2 separate regions of the Homo sapiens genome follow, and region 2 is linked to region 1. Evidence: fine-mapped expression QTL. A gene starts in region 1. The other region holds a variant in brackets. All regions are shown on one strand. Distances are between the middles of the regions.

Region 1 (8,543 bases):
TGATAAGCCAGGAGTGAAAAGTTAGAGCAGCTAAGGTCCTTTTTGGAAAATTTCAGGTAAATGCTATATTTGGTTGGATCTGGATTTTCCAGCGTCCAAGTGCAGTTTGTAAAGTTTTTAGGAAACATTTCACTTACAGAATACGATCCATAAATGACTCCCTTCACCAAAGTTGAACACCAGAAGTCTTGGGCAGCATTAAATCCAAACATAACCAGGAGATAGGTGGAAAATATATAAATCAGCAGGTTACGAACAGCCTTCATCCTATGTCATTTGGCCTGTAAAAATGGCAATGAAAGTAAAATGCAAGTAGGAGTCTACGTGCATTGAGAAAATAAACTCCTTTCAATATTACAGCCAGCTGTTTTCAAGATTTCAGTAAAAAGCCCTTTTTAAAAGAAGGGCAGGTAATTTTTATTTTATAACACAGGAAAATTATCTGTTGCTGTGTGAACAGCGCCCTCATGTGGCCATTCACAATGGTCAAATTCGCAACATTCAATTTAAAAATAACATTTAATAGATTATTAATAGGAATGCCCTAACTTATCTACTAGGATATCCTCCACGTCCATTATCATTCTATCGAATGAAAAGGGAAAACATGGAGTTTTAAAACGTCATAATGTAAATGTTAATTGTCGAAATAGTATTAATCAGTCTATAGTCTATACAACCTTTTCTCTCTCTGTCCTCTGCGGTAAACACTATCATACAAAATCTAATCTGATAATCTGGGAACAGCTGTCATCACATTATTTCTCTCCTCTTAAACGTGAAAAGTAATGATGATAAATTATGGCCACAATTTTAAAAGCACAAATAATAATTTATTACAGATGGAACATCATCTCCCAAATGCCCCACTTGCCTTTGCAGGGGCCACCATGTGAACTGCTCAGAAATTCCTTTGCAAAAACATGGGCATTCATGTGGATTAGTTAATTTTAAAACCATCATTTGAGAAAGGGCATAGATGGATAAATACATAGGGAAGACTTGTTGTTCAACATCACCATTGAGAACCAGGATTTAGGGCAGTCATTTCAATGTGACATGCCCTTTTGGGATACATAAAGTGGATCACTGTATTAGTATCTGTATCCAAAGGTGATATCAGTTAAAAAAAAAAAAAATCCAGAACCATAGTAATTGAGCTGGTTTCAGTCTTTTAATTTTTGAAAAATTATCTTATCAACTGTAATTTAAGGCTTACACATGGTAATAAAATACATTAACATTTTTGTTCCTAGCAGATTTCAATTATTAAATTGCTCCCTTTCCAACAACAACTCCAAAGCTCCTCTTTTCTTTTCTTTTCTTTTTTAATTTTAACCCTGGCTTTGGATAATAAAGTAGTCCTTGGTTATATTTACCTCTGTAAGTTGTTATCCAAAAATAACTTGAATATTTTTCAGCTTTAACCTTTAAGAAGTTATTTCTTAGAATAAATGACACTGCTTTTGTTTGTTTGTTTAGCCTTTGAGCTGATAAAAGTGATGCCAAGTTAATTTTAAAAGTCTTTAGGCTGCAGTCTCTTCCACTGTTCTGTAAACAGAGACAGACATACAGACATATAGATAGTTAAGAGTTTTCATGCCTTTGCCTGGGTCTTCTCTGAATCAAAGGATAAAACCCTCTTCCTTCCCATTGCATAACACACACCAACGCATGCACACCAAATCCAGTGACCGAAGTCCCTGAAGATAGATCTGCATTTTCCAGATTATAATTCAAATTCTATGTCTTGATATAGGCAAACACAGCCCCAACTCTAAATCTCTATATAGCAGCAGTTTAAAATAACATCAGAACTGCTGGGACCATCAAAACAGTGTTCTCTGTTTCAAGCAAATAGCTCAATGAATAATGCATTTTCTTCATGAGAAAATAAAGCCAATGAGCATTTAAAGGTTAAAAAAAAACAGAGAAAGTTGTAAGAAATTCTGGAAATAATTTCCTTTTTTTTTTTTTTTTTTTGGTGTTGCACTTTGCAGGCAATGCAGGTCTGCGCAGTGTTCTTCAGGATAGAGTGTAGGCGTTGAGAGCCAATGTGACAATAAGTGTCTAAATTAGGAATTCCATCCATGAAAGGGGACTTCATTTTATAATCAGGAACTCAAAAAGAGGTCGTATGTCTTTTCCTAATGAAATTGGTACTTTTGCTTTCATTTATTTGACAGTGCATGTCTGCAATGCCGTGCTCATCAATGATCAGAGAGTGAGGAAATAGCTCTGAATTCACTTTAATGCCTGCTCAAGAGAGCGCACTCAATATAATGCTCTTTATTTTTAATCAGTCTGGAGTACACAGTCTTATTTTGTTCTAAATAATAAAAAATAAATCATTACCCTCACCCCCCTTTGGACTGCAGGGCCCGTTCAAAAAGCCGTGTTTCCCTCTTAAAGAAGGGGTGGGGGCGGGGGCAAAGGCTGGCCACGGAGGTGTCAAGGATGTTTTATTTATTTATTTATTTATTTATTTATTTATTTATCTCTTGCTGAGAAGCAAACCAGCATTGAGTTTAGCTATTCTCAAAACTGATTTTCTGGGTGACACTTTAGTTTAGTCGAACATAGACGGCGCCATCACTCCACAGATTTTTCCCCCCAATAGAAGACCCACTGCCTTCTCTTAACTTCCTTTTAACCTAAAATTTTCCCCTCATAAAATTACCCCAATCACACAAAACTGCCAGATTTTCTAGGTCTCTCCGCTTATTCCTTCTGACCCAGCACATCTCTTGAAAACCAGACTTCTCTAACTTTTCAACTGCGGCGTTTAAGTAAATGCAGACAGTCGGATCTGCTCACAGCCTCCCCATCCGCCAGCAACAGCCTTTCCTTTCATTTTCCTCCCTTCTCAAACATTAAGCCCAAAGCTCCACGGTGGCGACCCCCGGCAGAGAAAAGGTGACCCCTGGACCCCCTTCCTTACCTTCCACTCCGAAAGCTCAGGGAGGCTCTTGCTCTAAGACACCAGCACAGGCACGCGTCCCAGCAACAGTGACGGAGAGACTCCCCTTCGGTCCCAATCACCGTTGCCCATTTTCCCCGGCTCAGCTTCCAAAATCAGGATTTATTTTTAAAAATGCATACATACGAAAAGCAAAAGGTGGGGGGTGGGAACCAAAGGGGGGTCGATGAGAGAGAGGAAAAAAAAGCCAGCAGGAGCCCAGAACCTTGCGCCGTATCCAACTGAATCCAACCTCCAAACCGAGGGGGGCTAAAGGGAGGGAGAAGCCCCCCCAAGGGAGACTCTAAGGAACCCCCCAAAATGTAAGTGGCTTAATAGCAAAGATTTGTTTCATAAAAGCTACCCCCAACAAACCAAGAAGCAAAGAAAGCGCTGAGACGAGAAGTGACCGGCGGCGGCGGCGGCTGCTATGGCAGATTTGTTGGGGCGGTGGGTTTATTACAGGAGTATTCGTGGTCGGATCGGAAGGCTCAAGCTTATGCTTTTTCCTCTTTCCGCTTTCCTCCCTCCTCCTCCTCCCCCCTGCAGGTACTGATGGACGGACGGCGACTAAGGAGAGCGGGGAAAAAAATCCTTGGCTGGTGATGTCGGAAAGCTGTTTGAATGCCCAGCGAGGAGGGAGGCGCGAGAGGGAGCGAGATAGTAAAGCTCTGTCTCGGGTGTGCGCGCCGGCGCGCAGTGCTCGCTCTCCCTTGGGCGCGCGCGCGGGGGGTGCGCGTGTCCCGGGAGCGCGTCCGCGCGGCGGCCTCCCGCGTGCTCGTGTGCGCGCGCGTCCCGGGTGCCGCGCGCCCTTCTTATGCACAGCTGCGGTGCGCCCCGCCGCCCGCCAGAGGCTCGGCTCGCGCGGCGCGGCCGCTGCGACTTCCTGGAGTTCTGCCTGCCGGGGGCGCGGGCGGGTGTGTGAGAGAGAAGGCGAAGGGAGCCGCGGGGTGGGAGAGGAGGGAGTCCCGGCGGGAGGGCGGGGGAGAGGCTGGCGGGAGGGGGGCTCCACGGAGCTCCAGCCAGGGCCGCGGTTCGCCTGCACGTCACGGCTACTCAAACCCAAGCACGTCCCGAAAGCGGTATTTTCTGCGTCTGGGAGGTTTTTGCATCCTCAGTTCCCACCGCTGGGGCTGGCGGCGACCAACTGTAAGAGAAACTCACTGGGAGGCGAGGCAGGGGGGTGCGGAGGATGGGAAGGCGACTCTGAAGGGTGGGAAGTGAATGCTGGACTTGATCGTCTTTCTCTTTCTTTCAGCGCAGACCTGTCGCAGCCAGAGAGCTGTCATTTCAGTACCGGGATTCAGAATTGATCCAGTCCGCAGCGGAGGGGGCACATCCCAGCTACCGAGCTGCTGAGTGTCTCTGGCTGGAACAATAGTATTTTTTTCTCTGCGAGGCTGCAATTAACATCTTATTTGTTCTGGCTCCATACAGGCTTTGTCAGGATCGCGGTGCGGCGACCGACGTTGGGCTCTTGCATTGCTTTGTGCTTGGCAATGGAATCATGGTTTCGGGGTCTAAACTTTTGTTTCGTTTTGTAGTCTTAATGTATCTGATTCTTTTTCAAGTTTCCCTAGTAACAGGTTTGGGGACGGGGTGGGAAGAAGCGAGAAAAGGGGTGAAGAGAAAAAACCAGATTATATAGAAAGGAAAAAGGGAAAAGGGATGTTTCCCCACCTTTTAATCTAACTATCTATCTGTCTGTCTATCTATCATCATAGATAGTCATTTTGCCTCCTGGACAGTTGGCTGACGAAGTGTCTGATAAACCAGCTTCAGATACATGCTACAAAAGGTCATTCGCCTCCTGATTATGTTTCTACTTGTAAACGCAGTTGGTGGTTTGCAAAACAAGTGCTAAAATAGTGCAGTGATGTGGTGGGAGGAAACCATAATGGGTAATTCATATAAAGTGCTGGAATCTTCGTAAGGGTGAGTTTCTCGAGCGGCAGGTGAAGTTGAATAAAGCAATTTTCCATCATTTGTTCCCCTCACTCTTGCATTTTTTTCCTCCGCTTGTTTCTCTCCCCTGGGGCGATTATGGATAGCCAAGAACACCATTTTAAAAGAGATTGATAGTGAAAACAGGAAGTTTATGGTCTGTTATCCACTGGAGTTGTTTGAAATATTAAAATTGGTCCTTTACTTCTTAATGCATATTAATAGAGTGACCCTCTTCAAGGCTTTCCCGTCTTAAACGAATGCCTGGGATAAACACTGTAAGGGGAAACAGTTAATAATTCCCCAGCAGGCTTTAACTATTTTCCCAGTAACAAATCACCGGCAAGAGAGCAGCCTGGGTGGCATTTTGGTTTTGTGTCATTTTGGTTCTTTACAATATTTTTTATTCATTTAAGGAAATGTTAAAAGGAAATAATTAGGGTTTATGTCCAGAACAAATTTTGAAACACCGTTTAAGCAACACATTTTCTTTTAAAAACAAAGAACATTGAGCAACACAAAGGAGAAAAACATTTTATTTATTTCAACTTCCCTAGAGATCGTAATTATGATTTTCGCAAGGCAATTTGGTCAGTTCTGTTACTTTATCCAGAGGAAAAAAAAGCATGACAGATGTGGAATAAAAACGGAGGAAAAAATGCTTTGGATGGTTTATACATAAAAAGGAAAGAATGTAATGTGAGGTTCAGTTATACCTCTATTTTGCATCTAGTGATTTCTCATATTATCTTGTAACACTGATTTTGATGTTTCTTAGAAATTCTTAAAGTCATGACACAGTGGCATAAGAATAACAGCTGAAAGGGACAATTTAAAAGCCTAAATCCTAAATGGAAAGGTTCACTTACTCCCAGGATCATTTATATTCAAGTAGAAGTCAGGGCAGGGTCAGAAAAGAAAGCCACCCTTAATAAAGCGCTTCACCCTTCACATTGTTTCTCATAACCTTCATAAATTGCAGGCTACTGAGCTGGCCTGATGATGATCCTTCTGAGATATATTTATAGCAGATGATTTGTGGATGATAACTACGCCAAGCAAGACACTGTCTCCAGTAACCCCAGGCTCGTCTGACTTCCTCAGGGGATTATAATAAAGAATCACAAAAAGAACCCTATATGGACAGTCTGGTCTCTGGACACTAACAACAGCACAATCCAAAGGCAAAGAAAGGAGGAACCACCTTGTTTCATGTCTGCAAGCTGCTCCATATGAAAGCATTGCTGACATGTTGACCCAACAGCAAAAAGAGAGCAGCAGTTTACACACCCTCAGCTCTCTGTCCTTTCCTTTCTATTGATGTTGGTCCACTTTTATGACTGAATACATATTAAAATCACCATTTCAAATTATAATTATCTGCTTTCATTGGTCTCTTTCACAAGTCTATGTCTATATTTATGTTTACATATATAAACACATATACACATATTTTATACATACATATGTATATGTATGCACGCATTATTTGTAAGTACACATACACGTGTGTGTATATATATGTATATGATATGTATATGTGTATTTCAGTTGATACACATATATTTGCTTGGGAAGTTTCACTACATTGCTTTGTATTTCTCTTTTATAAGGTAATGCATTTAATTCCAAAACTACCACATTAATTGTATAAATTGATTATTACATAAGTTTCCTTGATGATTTACAGAAGAACTATTGAGAGGTCAGTGTTAGCACATCAAAATATAGTCTGGTATGGCATTTTAAATTGACCCAGGTATCTAATATTAAAGCCTTTCAAATTTATCTCTCCTGCTATTATTTTATTAAGATTACTTTGGAATGATGAGGTTATAAGTGTGATTTATTTCTGTTTCATCTTTTTGTCTGTATGTGCTAAGTTTAGTCCCTCCACTTTGAGAATAACCCTATAATCCAGGATCATTGCTTAAAATTCAGTATCATTTGCAGAATTCTCATACTCAAATAAGAATGTTTCTAGAATATGTTTACTCAATTTTAGAAAGTATTTTCTCTTTCCTTCTTTCTGTCATAGTTTTTCTGATATTACTGTATTACCACATTCTAAACTCTGTGACTTGTTATTTTCAGTAAGGCTTTAAGAAGCATGGATAGGTTTGTAGGTTATTTCTTGTTAAATATGCCTTAATTTTTTAGTATTTAGTATTAGTATTTAGTTTTTAGTATTTAGTATTTAGTATCTCCCATATATATATATGCACACATATATATATACACATATATATGTACACACATACATATATACACACACATATATATACACACACATACACAAAGCTTTGGAATGTTAATTAAATGATCAAAATATTACAAGATTACATTGTTATGAGAACTTATCCTTAATATTAGCATATTTACTATAAAGTTAAACAACTTCTTCTCCTCTGTCTCCTGTTTATTATCATTATTTTATTATTATTAAAAAAGGAAGTCTCTCAGAAACCAAGCTGTATATCCTCTAGTCTCTATGTAAAAAAACAAATTGGTCATTTTCTACTTGGACATCCCAGAATAGAAAGTACATTGAAGTACTAAAAAATAAAGGGATAGACTTGGGGTTAAGGGAGATGTCATAGAACAGCTATCCTGGGTTAGTTCAAGTGTAGTCCTATTCCATGCTAGGCAAAGTCAAGGTTACAAAAATCCCAGTTGCATCAGGTTTCCATTTTTTATCATTATTTCCCTATACAACGATACAAGTTAAAAAAAAGTCGGTAAATACTTTTGGCCATCAATTTTCAAGATTTCATTGGTGATATTAAGGAAATGCTGTAAGTAGGTAACACATAATGTCATATTTGTGTGCTGTAGAAGTATCTTGGAAAATATGGACTTTAAAACCTCAAAATATGGGTTTGCAATCGAACATACATTCACCCCCAAATTTGACCTTTTTCAGCTAGTTATTTTCTCATATAAAGTTACTATACTTACACCATTATCTTTAATCCCTGAAATTTCAATTATACTAGAAATCAAGATTCTTCATTTTTACTCACGAAACTGACACTAAGTATATACCTCATTAAGGACAAGAAGCTATGAATTCTCTGGACTTCAGTTATCTCACAGAAAAGAGCTTGATTGAATAATGTCTAAGGCTCTTCCTGACATAGTCTAAATAACAGAAGGTGTCTCACAAGAAATGGAAGCAGTGAGAGAAAAATGCAATTAAATCCTAGACTAGAAAGAATCACAATTTTCCCACTCACAGGTTGGAAATGCCTCTCTATTCTATCACAATTTTGAAAACCTCCATAGTTTTACTAGCTTTGCCTTTCTCCCTTGCTATCATCTTCTGAGGTACAGACAGTCCTTTCCATTTTTATTCCTCTCCCACTCTGATAATTTTTTTCTTTGACAGAAGTCCCACTTTATCATTAATGATGACAATAACTAAGGCTGCCAGGAACAGCACATCTGCTGAGCTTTATCAACACCAGGTATTGAAGTCTATGGACTACCTATTATTTCTGAACATTTATTCATGTTCAGTCCTGTTTCTACCAATTCTGATCCACTTATCTCTACCATTTCTCTTCCTGGCAGATTCTCTCATTTTGCCTTCTGGATCTCCATGCTTTTTTATACCAACAAACAAGAGGAAGAATATTCT
Region 2 (8,000 bases), 100 kb before region 1:
TAGGAAAAAATAGAAAATTATAAAAAATATATTAAAATTACATGTATCCCACTATATAAAATATTAATAGATGTTTTAATGTTCACACCATTTAGTTTATTTTCCTTTTTGAGGAAAAACAATATCTAGAAGTTTACGTGGCTACTTTATTATCACATTATTTCTTAAGACTTCAATTAATATTTTAGGATGATTTAACATTTAGTGATTCCCTGCTTAGTGCCAAATACTGTGGTGAAATATTCACCTCTCCTTTATTCTAACTTAACCTTCACAGAAAATCTATGTGGTAGGCATTTATTATTCTCTGTTTATTGAGAGTAAGTGACTTCTTTGGGTGGTGCAGATGTGGGAAGCAGAGGAGTCAGGTTTCAATTTCTAATCCAAATTTTAAACCTGTCCTTTCAACTATAACAACTCACTTTTCAAAGAATCAGCCTTATTCCTGAGAATGATTAATATAGATAGTGCTTTTATTTTTCTTTTTCCCCTCTGTCAGAGTCAAGACCCAGAGAAAGAAAAAAAAAACTATAAGAGTTCCTTTAAAATGTGTATGACCTGTCATAGAAAGGATTAAATTTCCATTCATATATTTATGTTGAGACATAATATATAAACAGTGTGCTTAATGAGAACTGGAAGAATTACAATATATGCTGAATTTGAAACTAGTTTACATCATGAAGAAGCCACTCATTAGCAATGACTTGTGATAAGACTGGGGAGAAAACACCACAAGCAATTTATCTCCTAGGATTTCTTCAGAAGTCAGTGGCAAAGCAATAATAGTCAGTGAATGACATCACAATTTTAACTTATTTCAGGGAAAGTGTTTCCATGTAGTTTTCTTCATATTTTAAGCTAAATTCTTCAAACAAAAGATATATGAACATTCAGTTCTTTGCATTTTTAACACAGAAACTTGTGTTCAAAGTTTTTATGAATTTTCCCATGTGGTCCTTCCTACTTAAACAACATGTGAACTCGTGAATGATAATGAATTTGCATATTTAGCTAAAACGTTATAAGAAGAAGAATGCAAAAAGGAATGCTGAAAAGAATTTTTAAAGAACATTTCATCAGAAGCAAAAATGTTTAGGTTGTAAAAAACTGATGACAATAATTCAACCTGTCACCTTAATCAGCCAGTTTGATATTAGATTACTCTTCTATACTTATGATAGAAAAGGTAACAAACAGTGGTTAAGAAGGCCAGGGCAGGCACAGTGCTCAAGCCTGTAGTCTCAGAACTTTGCGAGGGTGAGGTGGGAGGATCACTTGAGCTCAGGAGTTTAAGACCAGCGTGGGCAATACAGTGAAACCCTGCCTCTGCAAAAACTACAAAAGTTTATCTGGGCATAGTGGCACATGTCTGTAGTCCCAGCTACTCGGGAGGCTCAGGTTGGAGGATGGCTTGAGCTGGCGAGGTGGAGGTTGCAGTTGAGCCATGATGGCATGATCACAGCACTGCACTCCAGCCTGGGCAACAGAGCCAGGCCCTGTCTCAAAAATAAAATATTAAAAAAAATTTAAAAAAAGCCAGACTGCTTGTATTCAAATACCAGCTCTCACATTTGATAGCTATGTGACCTTTGACCTTTAGGAGGTTACTTTATCTCCGGGTGCCTTAGTTTCATAATCTGTAAGATGTGGATAAAAATAGTTTTTGTTGTGGTAGTTTCATGAGAATTAAATGTGTTAACAAATGTAAACACTTGTAATAGTGCCTAGCACATAGGAAGCCCTATGCAGACACTAGATACACCATTTTGTGTCCATGCATGCATTTGTTTCATTTTTTTTTCCTGTCAAGCAAACTGACAAATGGTTTTTCACCAACTTCCATGTTTGTCCCAAAGTTTCAAAACTCACAAGCTCATTCTGTATTCTTCTGCTTCCTTTCCCTTCTTAGAAAACCAAAACATATATCACTGTATGCATGCACTTCAGAGAAACAGGAAGTTGGTGGGGGTGAGGAGTTCATACAGAAGACTGACATGGCCTATCAACACTTAACTATGTTCCAGTTCAAACAAACTCACTTTATCTTTGTTAAGGGAATAGAAGAAATGAAACAAACGGTTTTGCCCCAATTTAAATCCTATAAAGTATTTCTGACATCCTTCTATAGATACACCAAAGGTAGTTTTGCACAACATAATGGATAAATAAATATTATGTTTTACTAACACATAATATTGTTAAGGGACAATTTTAAAACCATTGCATGCATATATTATAATAACATGTAAAAATTAACACTGACATTGTGGCCCATACAAGGACATGATTCCTATGAAATATATGCTTCATTCTTAGTAGCCAAATTGGAATTTTTTTAATAAACAGTTGTATCTAGTCCAAAATCTACCCTTCTACCATATTCTCATCCAAGGTTATTGATACAAATTGATGTTTTTTTCTTAAAGATGCTCTAATTACCCATAAGAATATTTACTTGCTTCTTATTGATATTTGTTTCCTATTTATCACATTTTCTTTTCTTTATAGAGACCAGGTCTCACTATATTGCCCAGGCTGGTCTCCAACTCCTGGGCTCAAGCGATCTTGCTGCCTTAGCCTCCCAAAGTTCTGGAGTTATGGCCTATGCCACCACGCCCAGACTTATCACTTTGGATATAAGTGATAACAGAGGTCTTTGAAAAGCCTGCCCAGACACACAACACTATGCAATTTTTAGTAGCACAGACTTCCATTCCCTAAAATAAAGCCTGAGATTTGTGTAAAGGAAATTCTTTATTAATTATCAGAAAATTGCAGAAGTAGAAAATGTTATATAAGCCTAATCAAGTATAAAATAACTGATAAAATAGAGTGTCAGAGAGTTTTGTATAGACCTGCCACTTCTGAATAATTGGCATTATTATTATTAATAATAATGTTGTACCTGTTATTAATGTTGTTTTTCACTTGAAAATGCTAAATAAGCATCTCTATTAACAAGCTACAACCTTTCGATACTAATAGTACACAAAGTTAAACAAAAACATAGAAAGTTAATTAAAACCAAACAAGTGAGATAATGAAACTAAATGACTATTGATGGCTTAAACTCTACAGCTAACTATGTGATGGCTTGATGTGTGTTCATAATTAACCTACAATTTGAATATGTAAACATTCTGTAGATTTCATTTAGTACCACAGTAATTTTCTTTTTAGAAAATAAATCAGATTAACTCTCTTTTCTGGTCAACTATTTCACTTCTCCTCTCTTTCCATATCTTAAACACCTGCTATCCTCACTCTCAGCTGTTTATTCTCAAAAAATGTAAACAAATAGAACAGAGTTGCCAAAGGCTCTCACCATCATGTCTATCACCTACCTGCATCTAGACCTGTGCACTCTGACTTCTCTCATCTCCCTTCATTCTGCTATCTGAAGAAAATCCCTCCAATTGTGCATCAGGCCCCATCCCCTCTTACCTACCTAAAGACAAGCTCTTATTCTCTTTGTTTCCTATGTAATCATTTTTCAATTTCTGCAGAAATTCTAGTAAGCATATAAAAACATGAAAAACTTTCTCCCAACTAAAACTAAACAAAACCCTCACTTGACCACACATACCTTGCCAATATACAATTAATTTGCCAGTTCTTTTTTCCAACAAAATTCCTACAAAGATCTTTCCTTACTCATTGCTTCCGATCCCTTTCTTCGTATTTACCCTTAAATCCAATCCATTCAGGTCATTCAGCCTTCTACCTTTTAAAATTGCACCAGAGGTAAAGTATTGTTGGTAAGGTCATCATCAATGATCGCTACGTTTCTAAGTCAGTAGTCAATGATTGGTCCTCATTTTAGTTGACCAATAGCAGAATTTGAAACATTTGCTTGCACCTGTTCCTTTTACTTGACATATAAGGTATCACATTCTTAGTGTTTTACCTTACTGACCAGTTCATGTTAGTCTCCTTTCCTGTATCCTCTTCATGTCCCCAATCTGTTGGAGTGACCCAGATCATAATCCTCAGACCCCTTCTCTATTTACAATCACTTTCTTGGTAAGATTATACAATTTTGTAACTGTAAATATCCACTGACAGCTCCCATATTTTAATCTTTATTTGGACATCCCTCTGAAACTTTTTATTTGAATGTGAAATATACATCACAGACTTACTTTGACCCAAATCAAACTAGTAATCTTCCTGCAAAATTTGTTTTTTCCTCATCTCAGAAAATAACTCCATTCTTAAAATTGCTCATGCCAAAAACCTTAACGTCAGTTTTGTTGATAACTCTTATTTTCATATTTTATACTTTAGGAAATCTTGTTGGTTCTTCCCTCAAAACATAGCCAGACTCAAATAATTTCTCATTATCTTCACGACCTTCTCCCTCTAGCCAAAATTATCACCTTTGTTCAGTCCACTGTCATTTTCACCCCTAGGTTATAGAAATAGCCTCCCAACTTATTTCCCCCCTAATTCATCTCCCTGCTTCTAGCTTTGTCCCCCAGCTGTTCTCAGTCTATGGGCCATTTAAAATGTATGTCAGATAATGTCACTCTTTGACAGAAAATCCTCCAGTCAGTCCCCATTTTGCTCAGAGAGACAGCCAAAGTCCTCATACTGGCCTGCAAGGTAATACAAGTGCTCTCTCTCTCCTCACCACTGAGATCTCATCTGCTATCAGTTTGCACAAGCCTCA[A/G]TGGCTTCCTGAGTTTGCCACAATGGCTTTCCTGCATTTCCTCCAAATTCCCAGCAATGCTTTTGTTTTATGTATTTGCATTTGCCATTTCTTCTGATGAGAACCCTTATCCCAAAACATTAGCATGGCTCATCCTTATTCCCTTTCAGATCTTTGCTCTCAATTTCTTCTTAGTAAGGTCTTTCTTGATCACTTTAGTCAAACTTGTCCATTCTCCCTAGCAACACCTTTCCCTTTCTCCTTTATTTTTCTTCATAACACTTCACCAACTGTGATTATACGCATAGATTTAATTGATTAACATATTTATTTTTGGCCTCACCCACTAAACCCTGAACTCTCATAAAGCAGGTATTTCTTGGCTACTTTGTTGTGCTCTTAGGCCCTGAAGTAGTACCTGCCCGGTAGGAAGAATTCAGTAAATATTTATTGTTGAAGACTTTCAGTCTAACCTTTTTTTTGGCTTTCCTTTGGAAGAGTCATTTATAGGAAGCTGAGCTGATTTGTAATCATTGAGAACGACGAGATTACAAGCTCATAAAGGAACATGGACAATTTATGTTTGGACTGTCTTATTCCAGGGCCCACAGTTCTCCTGAACCCACTTTCCAATCTTGGGTCTCTACAGTCACTCCACTTCTTGTTGTCTATTTAGTGCTTGATAATAATATTCTTATTGTATGGGGGAACAAGTGGCAAGAACTTGCAATTTTGGAGTCTGAAGACCTGAACTTCAATTCTGATTCCAGCTCAAAGGAATCAAAACACTTATTATTGAGAAACAATGTTCTTATATTCAAAATGGAGGTTTACATCAAGTAATGACAAAAATACCATTGAAAAATTATACACATCCCTTAAACATGTGAAAAAATGTGCAACATCACTAGTAATTAAATAAATGCAAAAAAAGAATGTCTTTTTTCCCTACTAAATAACAAACCACAAAATACTCAGTGCTATGAAGGATGTGGAGAGCTGGCTCCTGGCAGAGGGACAATTATTTGATACAATTCTTATACTTGATTCATAACTCTTAATACAGTAACTCCACTGATGAGCAATAATAATCTAAGATGCATATACAAATTTAAGCATGAAAACATTTATTCTTAACATTTTTATAATACTGGAACATTACTAAAAATGACCACAAATAAAATTTAAGCAAATTATACTTTTCTCACAGATTAAAACATAGCCGTAAGTAATATTTGCTACTATATGGGAAAATGTTTATTACAACTTATTGAGGGAAAATATCCTTATCAAAAGGTGTAACATATTAAAATACTAAACATGACTAATTCAAGTTGTTAAAAAAGAGAGAAAAACTGACAGAAAATAAAGCAACTATTAGTAGTGACTAATAGTTGTCATTATTAGTGACCCAGCTTCTAGGTACTGGGATAAACTTTTCTGTATTAAAAAATGTAAAAATAATAATTTTAAATATGTTCCTGCTTCCCTTAGGAACATAGAAAAATTGTAAGATACTATATTAACTAAGCAACTAAAATTATTTATTCAATATTTAGCATTTTATTTTTGCAAAATTTAATCTTCATTCTCTTTTGGTCATCTCTAAGTGCACAAGTCCTCTAAAAGCTTCTTAGTCTTGTTTTGGGGACTTTTCAAGGCTTTCCAGCTTCAGTCTCTCTCTGTTATCCATCCAGAGATCTTTTTCTCAAAGTCCTCATTGAAATCTTACACAGAACAGTAATATATCTGCATTTAATTAAGTCTAATTAGTAGAGACACTCACACTGTGGGAAAACAAACCTTGCTGTCAACTGACATCAGCAATTGCAGATAAGTAGAGTGCCACTTAATACAGTTTATTATATTTTATTACAATAGAGATATTCAATGTTAATTATGTTGTAAAATTTTTAAAGAATTATTTTCTGGCTGGGCATGGCGGATCACGCCTCTAGTTCTAGCACTGGAGAGGCTGAGCCGGGTGGATAGCTTGAGCCCAGGAGTTTGAGATTAGCCTGGGCAACAAAGAGAGACCCTATCTCTATAAATTTTTTTTTTTTTTTAATTAGCCAGTCATGTTGGCAAGTGCCTATAGTCCCAGCTACAGGAGAGGCTGAAGCAGGAGGGATCTCCTGAGCCCAGGAACTTGAGGCTACAGTGAGCCATGATCATACCACTGCATTCCAAACTGGGCAACAGAACAAGACTCAGTCTCTAAATCAACAACAATGAAATATTTTCTAACTTCCTGAAAGATTGGTAAGCTATTTTAAGTCACACAGTTCTTTACCCATAATGCAAAATTCAAGGCAAAAAAATGTAATAAAATATTTTGTAGCACTCAGTGATTGCTGCTCTATAAAGACTGCAAAATCTTTTCATCCAAAACCTTTCATCGAAATGGAAAAATTCATCTATTTTAAGACAGAAAGAAACTTAGATATTAGGAATTTGCTGCTAATATGGGCTTATGCAATCTTGAGTTCTTTTTCTCTATAAAATCAATTCAGTCTAATGCCATAAGCGTCCATGGAATAATGATCTCACACAAGCATGGTAAAAAGACAATCCCTGGGTTATTCAGTTTAAAAGCATTTTCCTCATAATTTCATTATAACCTCAAAACTTAGAATGCTAAAAAGTTCCAAAAATTTTAATCAGTTTAATTTGACAAATTTAAATTTATCAATATATGAGCACAACTATATTCTTAAATCAACATCATCTTTCTGGTACTTTCCAAATACTTGCATAATAAATTAATAGATATCTTTTCTATTTCTAATTTGTAAATGATTTCCTATATTCTTATCTATCATATATATTTACACAGTATATAATTCTAATTCAATTTAATTCCTCTCAATTGTATCATCACTTTATTCTCTATTGTAGAAAATTAAAAATATGTTAGCTATTCCAAGCACTGATGAAACTTTCAGAAAATAGGCAAACATATTTTTTCACGTATGTCTTAGATTAAATTATTTGTATTTTATATTTTAAGTAACCTTCATTCTGGAATTTAACTTAATTATTCATTCATTCGACAATATTTTTGATCATGCTTATGTCATTGACTCCTAATTTAAAAGCTTTGGTTTCTCATTACAAGTAAAAAAATAAAAATACATATTTATATATGTAGAATACAATAATACATAGCTTTTAAATTATGGTCAGTGACATAAGCTATTATAATATTAGAAATTTTCTTCAATCTTTGCACTAGTATTCCATATTTTCATAGTATTATTTGACCCTGTGTCATCTCTATGTTTTTATCACTTCACTTTATTCCTTCAAGTGCTGAAATCCCTAGTAGAAACCCAAGTTAAACTCT

The links. PIP is the estimated chance that this variant, and not a neighbour inherited with it, causes the effect.
Region 2: its variant is fine-mapped to the expression of ADGRB3-DT in whole blood (TOPMed, PIP 0.92).

Annotation. Positions count from the first base shown.
Region 1 is chr6:68,630,399-68,638,941 of GRCh38, reverse strand. ADGRB3-DT (ADGRB3 divergent transcript) reads left to right here and starts at 4,618. Exons shown (of 2, transcript NR_125872.1): 1 at 4,618-4,757; 2 at 5,886-6,279. It overlaps ADGRB3 (adhesion G protein-coupled receptor B3), which reads right to left and starts at 3,660. Exons shown (of 32, transcript NM_001704.3): 1 at 2,942-3,660; 2 at 1,380-1,551; 3 at 1-281. The coding sequence starts at 266. It overlaps LOC127898563, which reads right to left and starts at 3,052. Exons shown (of 1, transcript NM_001414704.1): 1 at 2,975-3,052. The coding sequence starts at 3,052. The coding sequence ends at 2,975. RefSeq lists a silencer at 3,712-3,921.
Region 2 is chr6:68,734,902-68,742,901 of GRCh38, reverse strand. All of the region lies in intron 3 of ADGRB3 (adhesion G protein-coupled receptor B3), which reads right to left. Among named protein-coding and RNA genes, the nearest start is that of ADGRB3, 100 kb to the right of the region's middle. The variant A/G (reference allele first, on the strand shown) is at 4,676.